Regions from separate parts of the Homo sapiens genome. Here region 1 is linked to region 2. The links come from fine-mapping of genetic effects on gene expression. A gene starts in region 2. The other region holds a variant in brackets. All regions are shown on one strand. Distances are from middle to middle. Region 1 overlaps OR52K2 (olfactory receptor family 52 subfamily K member 2). Region 2 holds the start of OR52K1 (olfactory receptor family 52 subfamily K member 1).

Evidence for each region. PIP is the estimated chance that this variant, and not a neighbour inherited with it, causes the effect.
Region 1: its variant is the best candidate, but not a certain one, in a credible set for the expression of OR52K1 in blood mononuclear cells (TOPMed, PIP 0.81).

The regions. Positions count from the first base shown.
Region 1 is chr11:4,450,168-4,458,509 of GRCh38, reverse strand. OR52K2 (olfactory receptor family 52 subfamily K member 2) reads right to left here. Exons shown (of 1, transcript NM_001005172.2): 1 at 8,149-8,342. The coding sequence ends at 8,226. Among named protein-coding and RNA genes, the nearest start is that of OR52K2, 5.0 kb to the right of the region's middle. The variant A/G (reference allele first, on the strand shown) is at 3,041.
Region 2 is chr11:4,477,658-4,485,999 of GRCh38, reverse strand. It overlaps OR52K1 (olfactory receptor family 52 subfamily K member 1), which reads right to left and starts at 3,354. Exons shown (of 2, transcript NM_001005171.3): 1 at 2,824-3,354.

The DNA.
Region 1 (8,342 bases), 27 kb after region 2:
GGTCATCCTTTCTAATGGTGGGATAGCTTCATATTTTAAAATTATTGAGTAAGCCATCTTCCTGCCTTTTGGTTGAGAATAGTTCTGACTTGGTGAGGTGTGCTAACAATGAGGTTTCCCCCAAAGGTTAATTTTCCGCTTTCTTCTGTTAGCAAGGCAGTTGCTGCTACAGATTGGACACATGCAGGCCATCCATGGGTTACTGGGTCTAGAATTTTTGACAAAAAGGCTATGGGCTGCTGGTGGCCCCCATGATCTTGGGTGAGTACCCCTAAAGCCACTCCCTTGTTTACACTGACGAAAAGATGAAATGGCTGCTCTAGGGAGGGTAGAATGAGAACAGGGGCAGTTACTAGTAAATGTTTTAATTTTTCTATCTGTCGCATTTCTGGTTGGGTCCAGATAAGTGGGGGCGACTCCCTCTGAATTGAGTTTTTGGTATAGCAGTTTTCTTTCTAGGGCATAAGAGTCAACCCATAGGCAACAGTATCCAACTAAGCCTAAGAACGTTCTAAGCTCCTCTTTTGTTTCTGGCAGAAGTAGGGATATAATACCTTCAATTCGTTCAAACCCAATCCTCCATTTGCCTTTGCTGATTAAAATTCCTAAGTACTTTACTTCAGGCTCTACAAACTGAAGTTTACTTTTTGAGACTCTTAATTCTTCTACTCTTAGAAAATTAAGGAAGTTGATTGAAAATGCTGTTACCCATTCTTTGTTTTCCCCTGAAATAAGCAGGCCATCCATGTACTGGAGTAGGCATATGCATGAGGGCAAGGAAAATTTTTCTATGACTTATTTTAAATTTTGACCAAAAGGATTTGGAGAGTCTGTAAACACTTGGGGTAAAACTGTCCATGGGTACTGTTGTTTTAAACTAGATCGGGGGTCTTCCCACTCAAAGGCAAACAAGTCCCAGCTGTCCTCCACTAAAGGGCAAGTCCAGAAGGCACCTTTCAGGTTTTACAGTGAACCATTCATAGTTAGGTGGGATTTTGCTGTTAATGGTGTAAGGATTGGGAGCAGCAGGGTATGTAGTTTGAACTACTTGATTAATAGCCCGGAGGTCTTACACTAGCCAGTATGACCCATCTGGCTTCTTTACAGGTAATATTGTGGTATTATAAGGGGGTATACAGGGTTCAAGATGTCTATCATGAACAAGGCTTTCAATTATAGGTTTTAAACCTATCCTAGCTTTTAAAGGAATAGGGTGTTGTTTTCTTACTACTTCCCCAAGAGTTTTTAATTTGACCTTTATTGAGGAAACAAATAATTTTCCTTGATTTCCTTCTTTTGACCAGGTATTAGGATGGATATACTCTTCATCTATAGTAGTGAGTAAGTTTAGAGAGGTGAGAAATTTTCCCTGGTTAACATAGAGGCCTAAGCCTAATTCTAGCATTAAATCTCTTCCTATTAGGTTAGTTCCTTCCTCTGGTATTAACAAAAATTGTATATTAGCTGATCTATTTTTATATATGACTTTTGTTTCCTCTAAAGGTTTTGCTTTAAATCCTTCTCCCTTCACTCCTGAAATAAGGAGTTCTTCTTGTGAACAAATTACACCAGATGGGGAATGATAAACAGAGGAGGAAGCTGCCCCTGAGTCAATTAAAAAGGTAATAAGCTTGAATTTGGGTCCCTCCTCTAAATTTATCAAGGGCTCTTGGTGGAACTCAATATAGAAAAGACAGAGCCCCTGACCCTCCTAATCTTCCTCAAAAGCCATAAGGGGAATAACTTCCTTTTCTTTTTCCCATTCAGGGCATTCTCTTTTAATATGACCTATTTTTCCACATTTGAAACATTTATTTTGCTTCTTTTCTCTATTTCATGGCTGTCTGGCTTGATCCCTTTTCCTTCTGTGTAGGGTCTGACAGCCAGGGACTTAGAAGATTTGTAAGTTCTATTTCCCTGGGCTGCCTGTTAGGGAGTTGTAAGGTGGACAACATAATTTTTGCGTTTTGCTTTTGCTTTTCTTCATCCCTCCGTACACATACCTTTTGGGCCTCTCTTAAAAGTTCCTCTATGGAATGGTCTTTCCAATTTTCTGTCTTCTGTAATTCCTTTGTGATGCCTGGCCAGCTATTGCTGACAAAGTGGAGCTTTAACATCCCTTGTCCAGGTGGGCCCTCCACATCTAAACCTGCATATTTCTTCATCTGTTCCTTAAGTCTGTTGAGGAATTCCATGGGCCCTTCATCTTTTCCCTGTTGTGTATTAAAGGCTTTAGTAATATTCTGGGTGCAGGGCACCAATTCTCTAATTCCTTTAATTATTTCCCTTAGGTCTCTCATATTTCTTCAATAGGCTATATTGTTATTCCATTGGGGATCTTGAGGAGGGAATTTCTGTTCAGCTGCAGGGATGTTTTGACCGGGGGGTTCTCACGCTCCCAAAAGGTCATAGCAGCCCTACAGATAATGCTTCTTTCCTCTTCCGAAAAGAGGATGCCTAGGATGTACATTAACTCGGCCCAAGTATACAAGTGGGGGCCTAAGAATTGATCAATTTGATCTGCTACTCCATAGGGATCATCTAAGAGTGGTTTTAGTTCCCTTTTCAGGCTTTGGACTTCTGAACTGGTTAAGGGGACATTCACAAAGCCAATGCCCCCTCCTCCTAGAGGAACTTCCCTTAAGGGAAAAAGGTTTGCAGCCAATCCTCTAGAGGTAGTGGGGAAAGGAAAGTTTGGATATCCTTCTTACATTGTTCTATCTCATGTTGAAGCCTTCCTAAGGGAGGGCTGGGGACAGCCCCAAGAGTCAGGGTCATAAGGGAGGGAAATGACAATGTGAGTTGGGGAAGAGTTTGAGGCAGTTGCAACTGCTGGAGGGGGAGGGAAGTTAGTAATGTTTGGAGGAGGAAGTTGGTCTGTAGGAGGGGGAAGGAAGTTTGGTGGGGGAAGTTGGTCTAAGGCAGCCCACGTGTTACACTTTTGGGGTGAGGGATATTAATTTCTTGAGAGGAAGTAGTTTCTGGCTTGTGTCCTGTAGTTTTATGGACTAGAGGATGACAGGCCTCTGCCACCAACACA[A/G]GGCATAGTCTATTTCCTCCAGGGAGATAGGACTTTTGTTATTGACATACTCTATTAAAAGTTGACAAATCCATTCCTCACTAGACCCAAACTTTGGCTAGAAGACTTGAAGGTTTGAGGATAGGTTCTTTGGTCCAAATAAAAAATCAATATTTTATCATTTGCTGCTTTTTCTTCTGTTTAGTTCTTTCCTTATCCTTCCAATATTTTAACACGAGACCTAGAGGGCTATCTGAGTGTATTTTATTGCCCATCTTTTCCTTTTTATCCTGTCTTGCTTGGGCTATTTCCCATCCTAGAAGCTTTAGGTGTTTCCTGAGTGTGACCCCTAAGTGGGGGGTCAACATCTCTTACTAGAGATTTCTTGTACCCTCTACTCTAGAGGCTCAACCCCCTTACTGGAGGTTTCTTGCACTCCTTTGCTTTTGCTTCATCCACCTCTGGCTGCTTCCACAGAGTGAATTTAGGTCCCTCTTAGCATTGGCATGTTGATGTAAACCCCACGACAGGAATCCAGCGTAAGCCATATGAGGTGACCACAGAACTGCAGATCAGGACCACACTGGCTTCGCACTCAATTGTGCAGCTCACCCACACCTTTTCAACCTCCAGGATGCCCTGACCACCAAGAAATACTTTACTGCCCCTATGGTTTTTCTTACCACAGTCTGTGCACAGTTACCTGGTCACTGCAGTATTTGTAGGCCTTTTCCTCCCATGTTGCTGAGAGTCCTGGTTTTATTCATCACGCTGGGTGGGGCTCAATTCCTTATTCCTGAGGCCACTGCAATGAGGCAGCGGGATGCATCTCCTCATGACAGGGGTTTGCAGACCCTTCCCCAGAGGAGAATGGGATCCCTGATGAGCCCCCAAATTGTTAGAAACAAATGCTTGATGCCACAAAGAAGAACCAGCACTCAGGCAAAAAGTTGTCTCAGAATGGCAATTTACTTCTGCAGAACAGTGCTACCTGCATCAGCCACGATTGCAAGAGCACACCAAACAAAGGAGAAAAGGGGTTTTTATCCCTAATTCCTGTTTCTGTGTCCTTTCCCCATTGGCTGCAGTTGGACCTCACAATCTAAGCTATCCAGATTGGCTAAGACTTAAACTTCTCCAAATAGGGTAAAAGACTTAAACTTTTCCAAATGGAGTAAATGCACAATTTGCAAAGGGAGGAGGGGAGGGAGAGACTGTTATTAACTAGGCAGGAGGGAAGGCATGTCTAGGCATATCTGGGTGCAGCAAGGAGGGAAGGGTTGGTCACAGAACAGAGAGAAAAAGGAAGTTTGAAACTTCTTCCAAATAAGGTAGTGAGATGAGGACTTTGAAGGCCAAAGCAGGGAGAAGGGCTAATTTACAATCTTACAACTTATAACAAGAAAGTTAAGTTTTGAAGAGGAACTTAGTTGTTCTAACACCAATATCTAGTCCCATATCTGCTTCTGTTATGCGTATATAAGGTATCCAAGTTATCAGCAGTGAATCTGTACAGGTTTGCAGCAACCTCAATTCTTGCCTCCTCAGAAAAAAGAATTTTGAGGGTCATGAGGCAGAAAAAGAGACCAAGGCAAGTCTCAGAACAGGAGTGGAAGTTTATTAAAAAGCTTTAGAGCAGGCACCAGGTACAGTGGCTCACACCTGTAATCCCAGCATTTTGGGAGGCTGAGGTGGGTGGATCAGCTGATGTCAGAAGTTCGAGATGAGCCTGACCAACAAAGTGAAACCCCGTCTCTACTAAAAATAGAAAAATTAGCCAGGCATGGTGGTAGGCACCTGTAGTCCCAGCTACTTGGGAGGCTGCGACTGAAGAATAGCTTGAAACCAGGAAGCGGTAGTTATAATGAGCGAGGTCATGCCATTGCACTCCAGCCTGGGTTACAGAGAGAGACTCCATCTCAAAAAAAAAAAAAAAAAAAAAAAAAAAAAAAAAAAAAAATAGCCTTAGAGCAGGAAAGAAAGGAAAGTACACTTGGAAGAGACCCAAGCAGGCGACTTGAAGGACAAGTGCCCCACTTAATCTTGATCCTGGGACTTTATAAGATGGCCCACTTCCAGGGTCTTGCACCCCTTTCCCATGATTCTTCCCTTAGGGTGGGCTGCCTGAATGCACAGTGCCCTCCTTACCCTTAGGAAGTGAGCATGCGCAGTGTGTTTAAGAAGTTGTACGCATGCCCATCTGAGGCTTTCTTCAGTTTTCTGACAGAATGCCTCTGGAAGGTCATACTCCACCACTTTGTTTTTTAATGAACATGCCCAGGCTCACTTGCTCATTTCCTGTGATTTTACTGGAAACTGATTACCAATCTCAAGTATTTTCATCTGTTTGGGAAGTTGCCTCTCTTAGGTACCTGAATTCAATTAACACTTTAGTGTGGCAGCTTGGACCATCGGGAGATTGTCTCTCCCTGGCACTGATGGCCAAGTTATCATTTTTAGAGGGGCAGTGTGGTAACTGCCCAACCATCACTTGACTATAGTCAGACATTCCTGGTGGGTAGGTGGTAGGGCCCCCTCCTGCCCCACTCATGCCTGTCTAACTACCTGTAATGTTTCCCCCCACTCAAGAGCCCAAGACCCCAAATCTTTGGAGGAAAATGGATGAAGGTCAGTCTTTTGTAACTGCTTTCTGCTGACAGAGGGGTGGTGGTGGTGGTTCTGTGGGTCTTGGCCTCTTGCTGTCAGGGCAGGAGGGTGACTCAGTGGCTTAGCAAAAGTGGTATCCAGCCAGGTCCAGGGGCAGAATTTTGCCTACTTTCTGTCCACTGATGAGCAGTCTAGCGGTTCCCTGTAGAAGGGTACCTCTTGAATATTGAGAGGACAGTATACCTCACGGAGGACCATCTGGAGCTTGATGGCCTGGGGGTGAGAGGAGACAAATTGGGTTTAGAATTTAGAAGACCTGAACCAAAAAGGTGCAAAACTAGGAGAATAACAAGTGGTCCTAAAAAGGAAAGAACCCAGGAGAACCATTTCCAGGCTCCTTCCCTATCTAACCAACCCTGAGAGGCAAGTTCCCATAATAAATGGAGGCTTGATTTGGAAGTCGTGTGATGTTGTCCTGTACTTTTCACAGTTGGTTTACCCAAAAGCAATACTTTTCATCTAAGGCTGAACAAAGTCTTCCTTGTGCTGCCATTAGCATATCTAGTCCTCAACAATTCTGGAGGGAATGCAAATTAATACAACCACTCTGAAAAACAGTATGGAAGTTCCTCAAAATACTAAAAATATAACTACCATGAGATTTAGTAATCCCACTACTAGGTATTTATTCAAAAGAAAGGAATCAATATGTCAAAGAGATATCTGTATTCCTATATTTAGTACTAGACACAATAGCCAAAACATGGAATCAATGTAAGTGCTATTAATATCTGAATGGATAAAGAAAAATATGATACACATGGAATATTAGTCATAAGAAAGAATGAAATCCTGTCACTTGCAGCAACGTGGATGAAACTGTAGGTCATTAAGTTAAGTGAAACAAGCCAGGTACAGAAAGACAATTATTGTATTTCTCACTCATGTGGATGCTAAGTACAGCTCATGAAAATAGAGAGCAGATTGGTGGTTATTGGGGGCTGGGAAGGGAGGCAGGGAGGATAAGAGATTAATTGAGTATAAAAATACAGCTAGATATAAAAAATAACAAGATGTAGTGTTCAAGAAATCAGTAGGGACTATAGAAAACAATCTACTGTATATATCAAAATAGCTAGAAGAGAATAATTTTAATGTTCCTAGCATAAAAGAAACATTTAAGGTCATGGATATTCCAATTATCCTGATTTGATCATTATCTATTATATGAATATATCAGAATATCACATATACTCCAAAAATATATATATCTAGCATGTAGCAATTTTTTATGTAATACATTATTTCTCTGGGGTATTTGTTTTTGTGTCAAAGGGAATTATAAGAGCAGAGGTGGAATATAAGGGGAAGTAAAACTCTAGGTTCTTGCTATACTCTTCCCTCCTGGACAGCTTCCAACCTTCTACACCCCACCTGAAATAGGCTTGGAAATTATCTTTCAAGGCTAAATAATATAGACAGGTAAATAGAGAAAGATACAGTGATAGCAAAAGAGATATATAATTTCTAAGCAATAATATCTGAGGAAACAAGTGGGTCAGAAGATAACAGCAGAACAATGTATTTATACAGGGCTTGTGTGAAAAGCTTAGCTGTGTTGTCAGGATTAATAGAGAATTATATAGTAGGTAAGTTCACATGAGACAGGAAAAGAGAAACATAATATTCTTGCCTCCTATCTGCTTGGTCTTGCTCTTCTTTTATTATGCTGGGCCTTGGGATGGAAATTTCAGAGAACAGAATCTATCATAATTATCATTTCCTTCTCTGTCTTAGGACAAATACACAAGTCTGACACCCCTAATTTAGTATATGTGTCCCCATCCCCTATCACAGATTTGGTGGAATTAGTAAATAAATGAGCCATTCTCATTCTTGAAAACATAAGATACATCTATGTGCAAAGAAAGAGTTGCATGAAACATAAAGCCAGAGGACATGTCTTATTCAAAGTACTTAATAAAAGGAATTGGACATAAGGATGGATTGGTAAATATAAGCAAAAGAATACACATACTGGCTTAGGTGAAAAAATGATTTTCTAGCAAGCATAGGTGTCTTACTCAGAACCTGCAGCCCTGGAATGTTTCAAACTTCCTAACACTGAGTGTTTCATCAGAAGCTGGACACCACCAGTCAGAATGAATGAAGGATTCCTATGTCAGATATACTGTTGGCCCTCACCCAGGTCCTGAGTAGATAGTTCACCAAATTCCCAATGACTAAGAAAAGAAACTCAGATTTTCAAAGTCTTCTCTTCAGCAAATGAAGTTGGAAGCATCTTTGTGTCTTTCGGTGAAGTCACCTGGAGACCCATGGGTCAAGTCTCTGTCAAGTTACTGATAGGGGTGAGGGCACTGTGAGAAGACAGCACAGTCAGCACATTCAATCCACAGGCTACCAGAGGACACAGACCCATGAGTCCTGAACAGACTGGTGGCTCTGAGTTTCAGGACATCATTTTTTTTTTTTCCAAGAAAAAACTAAACATGAAGATCCTGGCAGCCGTGCACATTCTACCATAGCCTGTCTCCAACTCCAGCAGACAAGCCAACCCATTCTTTCTCCACCTCACCCTCTACATATCCTTTCTTGGGAATACTCCCAAGATGCTCTCACGGATTTGCTTGGTCTTGACACCATAGATTATGGGATTGACCATGGGTGGGAAGAGCAGATAGAAATTGGCAAGGAG
Region 2 (8,342 bases):
GGAACAGTCTAAGAAAATGGAACAGCCAGAGAAAATGCCCCAAGACATAAAAACACCTGTTATTCAAATATCAGCAGGCAGCCAGCACAGGTAGGATGAAGCAAATGAGCAGGAGAATCAGGTCAGAACAGTGGGGCCAAATCACACAGGGCCCCACAGGCCTTTGTGGACTTTGCAAAAGTTCCCCATTTCTCTCAGAATCAAGGACATTGTTTTCAGCAGAGAGGAGATGTATGTGACTTATACTTTTAAAGTTTTCCCTGGCATCTATGATGGAGAATAGCACAAAGAGGGAAGGGTAGAATTGGGGGAAAGTACCTGGAGACTATTGCAGGAATCCAAGGAAGGGAGAACATTGGCTCAGAATCAAGGTAGCAGTGTATGTAGTGGGAAGTAATAGGATTGGGGATATATTTTTAAAATGTGTCAGTGGCATTTTTGACAGGTTAGATATAGGAAGTGAGACAACAGGGAGTCGAAGATGACACCCTGATTTTTGGCATAAACCACTGATAGGAGCTGCTCCCAACTGAGACGGGGAAAGCATGAAAGGAGGAGCTCGAGACTTCAATTTTTGAACATGGTGAGTTTGAGATATCAGAAATTCAAGTGAATATGGTAATACGTATAGAAAATAAATCATATTTAAAGCCACAAAACTGTTTGAGATCGCCCAGACAGTAAATGTTCACAGAAAAGAGAACTAGAGAACCCAGAACTGAATCCCAACATTAAGAATGGATGGGAGAAGAGTTGGAGCACACTGAGATATTCGCAAGGGAAACTGACAGTGGAAACTATTAAGATAGAAACATCCCCAAATAATGTACTATCTTAGTATATAGAATATAGTTTACTAACAAGTGGATTATTACCATGTAAAATGCTACTGATGAGTCAAAGAACTTGAAAACACAATTGGCCTTGTGTTTAGAATTGCACAAGAGGATTGGATACCTTGATAAAAGCAATTTTGCTAGAAGAGAGACAGGCAAAGCCTGACTTGACTGAGTTAGAATAGATAAGAGGGGAATTGAAGTTTGTTAACATGGCTAACTTTTTTGAGGAATTTGGAAGCAAAGGACAGCAAGTAAATAGGGCACTGGCTAAAATGGAAAGCGAAGTCAACTGTGTGTGTGTGTGTGTGTGTGTGTGTGTGTGTGTGTCTGTGTGTTTTAGAACAGAAGTATCATGTCTTTAGCTGAAGCAAATTATCCAGTAGTAGGGGAAAAGTTGAAACTTAGACGAAGAAAGAGAATACTGCTCCTGAAAAGACCGTGAATATTGCATCTTTCTAGGTGGTCTGCTGGTTGATCATTGAGAATATAAACATATCCTGAAACAAACACAAATTTACATACCTTACATTCCTTGTAAGCTCCAGACTAGGATATCCAACTCCATACTCGATATCCCCACATATCTTCCTCACAGATATGTCAAACCTGCCATGCCTGAGGCAGAAATCATGACTACTTCTCTTCTTGTGCTGCCCATATCTCAGAACGTAACATCCTGCCCAACCAGTTGCTCAACCTAGAATCAAGTCATCCTGGATTCTTCTCTTTTCTTCCTGCATCATATTTAATCATCAGCAAGCACACTGGATCATCCTACATAGTAAATCTCCACGTTGCCCATTGCGTTTCCAACACTTCCACCCTTCCAACACCATCACCCTTGTTCAAGCCACAGCATCTCCCAGCAACTACTGCTACAAAAGAATCCTAACAAGTACACAAAGTTCCACTTTGTTCTCCAATATTTATCCTTCAACAATTACCCACCATATCATGAAGTGAAGGGACTGGAGTTAAGAAACTCTACCTATTTTCCTTCTGTAAACCCAGCCTCTAACATACATAGGTGTGGAACATTTCACTAAATAAAACAGACTACTAGATTATTGGAAGACATATTTCTCAGAATACTACTCCCCTCATGTGATTTAAGCTCAGAATTTGGGTTATCTTCTCATTTAAAATGCATCCAGAATGGAGGTTCTAAGCATCCCGATTACAATACTTTGTTACCTGCATCAGAATAAAATTCTCTTCTTAATGGAAAATACTATTTTAAATATTCATAATGTTTGTGCATTTTTGTCAGGAACAAGCTCTTATGACAACAGACATTTTTATTTTCAAGTACATATCAGTACCTAGAAACATGCCTGGCGTCTAAGAAACTCTTCTAAAATACTGTGAAATAATCCCACAAACCTGCTGCATCTTTACCTTATCTCAATATGTATTTTCCACAAAACCCACATGTTTTACTTTGAGTCTCCATGTCCCCCTAGATTCCTCCATTCAACTTTTAAACATCACTAACCACCCTGTGAGCTGTCTACCCATCTTCATACAAGAAAAAAAGGCATCTCTTCTATCAGATTTCTTCCTGAAAAGACAGGGTGTCTAATAGTTCATAAATCTTACTTCCTTTGAAGTTCATCTAAAATCAACTCCTCAGAATGAAGTGCTCTGAGTAGGAGTGTGAATGGAGCCAGTCTTCTTCCCCTAATATCCAGAAACTAAGACCTCCTCTGTAGTGCAAGTTTTGTCCAGACTGTTCATTGTTTTCAGAACTAAGATGTCCATGCTCAAAGGATTTATCTTCTATTTCTCCTTAAAAAAGGCCTCTGTACCCAGAATGGACTCAATTAATACTGAATCTATTTGGTTGCCTATACCTTTATCTTAAAAGGATATCAGAATGACATATCTGAAAAACTTAGAACCAGACAAGGAAGGATAATCACATAATCAAGATACTTCAGGACTGCTTCTGGTAGAAGAACCTCAAAGATAAGGTATTTCTTACCTTTCCCTGCCATCTTTCTAGTTCAGGCCTCGTTTTCTTCCTCTTGACTAATGCAGAAGCCCTTTAACTGGGATGGGGCATTTGCCAGGGGTTAGAAAAAGCAATGACAGGAGGTGAGAAGTGACAGATCCAAACTGGAATAATCAACTAAGACTTCTTGGAGATGGCCCACAGTGTTTGGCATAGGACGGAAGCAGGCATCCTCTGTGGTGGGGAGAGCATCTGGAGTTTGTGTACCAAACAGTTGGGTGGGACTATCGAGACTTCTGTTCCCTCTATTGAAGGACCAGAGTAGAAGCAATAACAGGGTTGGAGAGCTGATGCCTAAGATCAGGAATGGCTATGGGAAGAAATTGACAGTGCCCCCACCTTCCAGCTCACTCCCACCTTCCTGCTCACCCCAATAACATCACTTGTTTTCTATTTCCCTAAGTTGCAGCTGTATCCACAGTCCTCAGTCTGACTTACAATCCTGGGCCCTTTTCATTAGCTTCATGCAGCACCAGTGCCGCCTTCCTCTTTCAGTCTAAGGAGTCTTAGAAGGAGGAAGCTGGGAAGCGAGCAGCTGGCTTTAATCCTCACCAACCTCTGCCCTTCTCCCAGAAGGCTGTGGAAGCAGAAACTGCTGCACTTGAGCAGAGTCCTCAGAGACATCTCTGGCCTCCTCTCTCTGGGTTGATGCAAGGGGACTTCCCCTGACCCAAGGGGACTGTATCCTTGTTTCCTACAACCCATGCCTCCTCCCCAGCTAGTGGCACTGAGTTGTGCCTACCAGGGGTCATGCCCTACTTGCCAGAGGCTGTGAGACTTTCAGGTGGAGCTGGCTTGTGTCTTGGTGTTTGCTGTGCCTCTCCTTACTCTTTATCCTTACAGTGTCTTCAAAGAAAGCCAGCCTCATCAGAAAATATACACTGCAGGCAACTCCTGTCAGAACTGACTTGAAAGGGCAGGGAGTCCAGCCTGACCAGGCCAAGGTCATCCATTAGGCATTTTATTTTGCATTCATATTTCATATTGGCCTGAGATATGCATTAATAACCAGCTCGTGAACTTGATCTGGCACCTGTCTGATCCCTGATCTATTTTTCTTATCTCTAAGGTAGAGATAACTTTTACAATATTTTCTAACTCACAAGGATAGGAGGATCTAAGTAGATAAACAAGAGGCCACTATGAATGTGATTCCTTATTAATAATTAGGAAATTACCAATCATCTATAAATGATAAAGAGTGATCTTTCTACCTACAGCTGACTTAATGTGTGCTATTTTTCAAGGACCTGAGAAGATGCTTTTCACTAGAGTTCTCCATGGATTTTGTCTACCCTAATTCCCCATAATTTTTAAAAGCAATCTCAGAACGCTGTAACTCAGTCATCTCACTCCCTTCCCACACAGGTACCCTGGAACTAACTTCCCCTTCTGTAATAGTTGGCCCTCAAGGGTGTGGACTCAGCACTCCTCCATGATAAGTCTGATCTTTTGGGATGCTGGGATAAAGTGGAATTCCTACATAGTTTTAACAATGTACAGCTAGGCCAAGGGGATACAGCCTGTATGAAAAGCACCTCACCAAAACCTAATATGGCAAAAGCCAGATAAAAGCCAGACAAGAGCCAGATAGAATAGACAGTGTTTTTGTGAACAAAGCACCTTAATTTGCCCCCAACTCCATTCTGAATGGGCAATCCTGACATCATAGGAGCAGGATAAGAAGCACATGGAGTGGGGGAGTGGGCAGTGGGGCCATTGGCTCAAACCATGCTGGAGATAACTGCTGGAATATTGGAACACTTAGACTGTTTAATTCATTGACATCCTCCCCACCCTATCTTTTCTTTTGTAAAATCTAGATTCTTTTACATTCATATGCATCTTTGTTTTGGTGTTCTTCATTCCCTCCAGGTTTTTCATGTTTCCATCTGGATCATTTTTTTTCTGCATGAAAAACTACTTTTATTTTTGCTTTTATTACAGGCCATATAGTGACACATTCCATCAACTTTTGCTCATTTGTAAAATTATCTTAGTCATCTTTGTTTGTGAAAGATGACTCACCTCCCGGGCCTCTGTCTAAAATTCTATTTCAATTTGAATAGGTTTTTAAATGGGCAATTCTTCTTTCATCCACTTTAGTATATTAATTGTATTCTGCCTTCACTTGCTTTTTTTGAAGTCAAGTATCTATTAATATCAGTCTTATTGTTGATCCTGTGAATATAATGTGCCCTACCCATACCTGGGTGCTGCTTTCTTTTTTTTTTTTTCCAGTTAGCTGTGATCACACAGAACATTGTAGGCCTTTGTATCAGTCTGTTCTCACACTGCTATGAAGAACTACCTGAGACTGGGTACTTTTATGGAGAAAAGAGGTTTGACTGACTCACAGTTCCTGCAGGCTGTACAGAAGCATGGCTGGGAGGCCTCAGGAAACTTAGTCATGGCAGAAGATGAAGGGGAAGCAAGCAGGTCTTACCACAGCGGAGCAGGAAAAAGGGAATGGGGGCGGGGCCATACGCTTTTAAACAGAACATCAAGGGGGAAATCTGCCCCCATGATCCTATCACCTCTCACCAGGTCCCCTCTTCTGACATGTGGGGATTACAATTCGAGAGGAGATTTGGGTGTGGACACAGAGCCAAACCATATCAGCCATGTAAGGATTTCACTTTGCAAAGGTTCATAATTTCTCTCGGAATAAAAGCCAAGGTTGAGCAGTGAATTGACATTATTTGACATATGTTTTTTAGATATTGCTTCTGACTTAATGGGAACAGCACAAGATGATGAGGATGAAAGCAGAGAAAGGATTACAGATGCTATTGTAGGCATCCAGAGAGAAGATGGTGTTTCCAAATCAATGTGTTAATCATATATATGGAGAGAAATCAGATGTATCAGATTTTATATCTATTTTTTAAGTGCCAGTGGGAATTCCTGAAAAATTAGCTCCAGGCTGTGAGAGAAAAAGAAATCAAAGATAACACCAAGACTCCTTGCTTGAGGAACACGTAGGTGGGAAGGTGTTGTGAGGGTTGCTAGGCAGAACAGGATCCTATACTCAAGCATTGATCCTACTTTAAGGATGATGTGCACCTCTGTGTCCTAGCTTGGAATGTTGGGATGACCTAGTTTTTGAGTGATTAGAAGTATTGCATCTAGGCCTAGATAACTGCATCAAGTTTCCTTTATCCTAATCTATATACCCATCTATATGGGTATAAAATTATATGTGCCTGTAGGCTACTCATATTTCTTATTCATGTTTTGATTGTGTGCTAAACTCAAATGAGCTCATAGAGAAGGTAATTTTCCTTTTACTATTTGTGACTAATCCTGGCTGTGCTAATGTTATGTTGATATATTACCTGTCTATGGGATCCTTATACTACTGGACTTGTTCTGGGAACAAAATTATTTCTTCACTGGGGATAGATATGACCTTAAGGATGATGTTATTCCCCGTATAAGTCAATGGGAAAATAAGATTTCTCTTGTTGGAAATACCTTTTAAAATTCATGCTCTTTTCCATGTTTGTTTATATGTGGTTACAACTTAGTGTTTATTTTTTAGCTGCCCACCTGCCCCAACTATTCTCAGACAAAATAATCAAGAGGTGTTGACTACATGAGGCATTTGTCTTTGTGTCTGAGGGATTCATGGGAGCAGTGATGGAATATAAGGGGAAGCAAGAGTGTAGGTTCTTGCAATACTCTTGTCTCCTGCACAGCTTCCAACCTTCTACACCACACCTGACAAATGCTTGGAGATTGTTTCAAAGATAACTAATATAGAGAGAGATAGAGATGCTTCCTAAACAGTAGTCTCTGAGGAAACAATGAAAGGGGTCACAAAAAATGAAGTACAAGAATGCATTTGTGGAAGATGATGTATGAAAATATACTCATTTTCTAGGCTGTAATAACAAAATACCACAGACTGGATGGTCTCAATACAGAAACCTATTTTCTCAATTCTGGAAGCTAGATGTTCAAGTTAAGGTGTGGCAAGGTTGATTCCTTTTGAGGCCTCTCTCCTTGGCTTGGACATTATCTTCTCCTTGTGTCTTTTCTTATATGGACACCTGTTGTATTAGATTGAGTGCCATCCTAATAACTTCATTTTAACTTAATTAACCTCTTTGAAGACCTTATCTCCAAATACAGTCATATTACTCTGAGATACTAGGGTTTAGGACTTCAACATATGAGTTTACTGAAAGGAGACACAATTCAGCTCATAACACCCTGCCTTCTGGCTCCCTAAAGTCTAGTCCTTCCCACATGCAAAATACAAGCATCCCCAATTCCAGGGGTTAACTGTAAATACAAAATCTCATCTAAATGTAATATCTAAATCGTTTATGTGACACTCTGGTATGAATCCATCCTGAGGCAAAATTTCCCTCCATCTATAAACCTGTGAAACCAGACAAGCTACCTGTGACCAAAATATAATGGTAGAACAGGCACAGGATAGGCATTCCCACTCAAAAAGGGAGAAATCAGAATAAAAGTGTTATGAGTCACAAATAAGTCTAAAACCTAGCAGGGCAAATTACACTTGATTTAAGGCTCAGAATAATCCTTTTTGACTCAATGGACAGCAGCCCTAATCCCTCAGTCCTGGGTTAGAGGCACCCTGGCCTTCTGAAACCAATGGGCTGGCTCTGCCCTCTGGAACCAAGGAAGAGGCAGCCTAACCTCCTGGATCTGTGTCTTTTGGGCTTGTGGTGGCAGTGGTATCCCTGCCAACCTCTGAACAACCTTAGGGTATGTTCTCCCTTTTCTTTAAGGATAATGCACGTTTGCAGCTAAATAGCTGTATTGGGCCATCCTCTGGAATCCCGGAAGTCCAGCTACCTTCTTTCATGTCATCCTAACTCTGTTCATTTCTGCTGCTAATAAAATTCTCAAAAAGCATGTTGGTCTCTGATGCAATTCATGGGGTCCAAACTATCAGATAAAAGGGATTCCTGTGAGTCTTTCCTGCATAGCCCCATCTCTATTCCTGGCTTCTGCTGAGATGGCTGATTGTATTCATAAACACATGCCTAATCCTTTTTTTAAAAATTGGCACATATTAATTGTACATATTTAGAGGGTGCAGGCAATATTTCCATACATGTATACAACTGGTAATGATAAAATCAGGGTAATCAATTTGAGATAATCTGTCACCTCAAATATTTATCATTTCATTGTGTTGAACATTCAAAATCCACTCCTCTGGCTGTTTTGAAATCTATACTAAATTATTAACTATTGTCATTCTAGTGTGCTATGGAATACTAAAACTTATTCCTTCTACCCAAAGGGCAATTTTCTACCCATTAACCAACTCCTCCCTATACCCTCTTCCCCCCTACTCTTCCAAGCCTCTGGTAACCACTATTCTAGTCTCTACTTCTGTAACACCGACTTTTCTTTACCTCCCAAATATGAGTGGGACCATGAAGTACTTGTCATTCTGTGCTGGTTTATTTCATTTAATATACCTAATCTTTTTAGAAAATGGT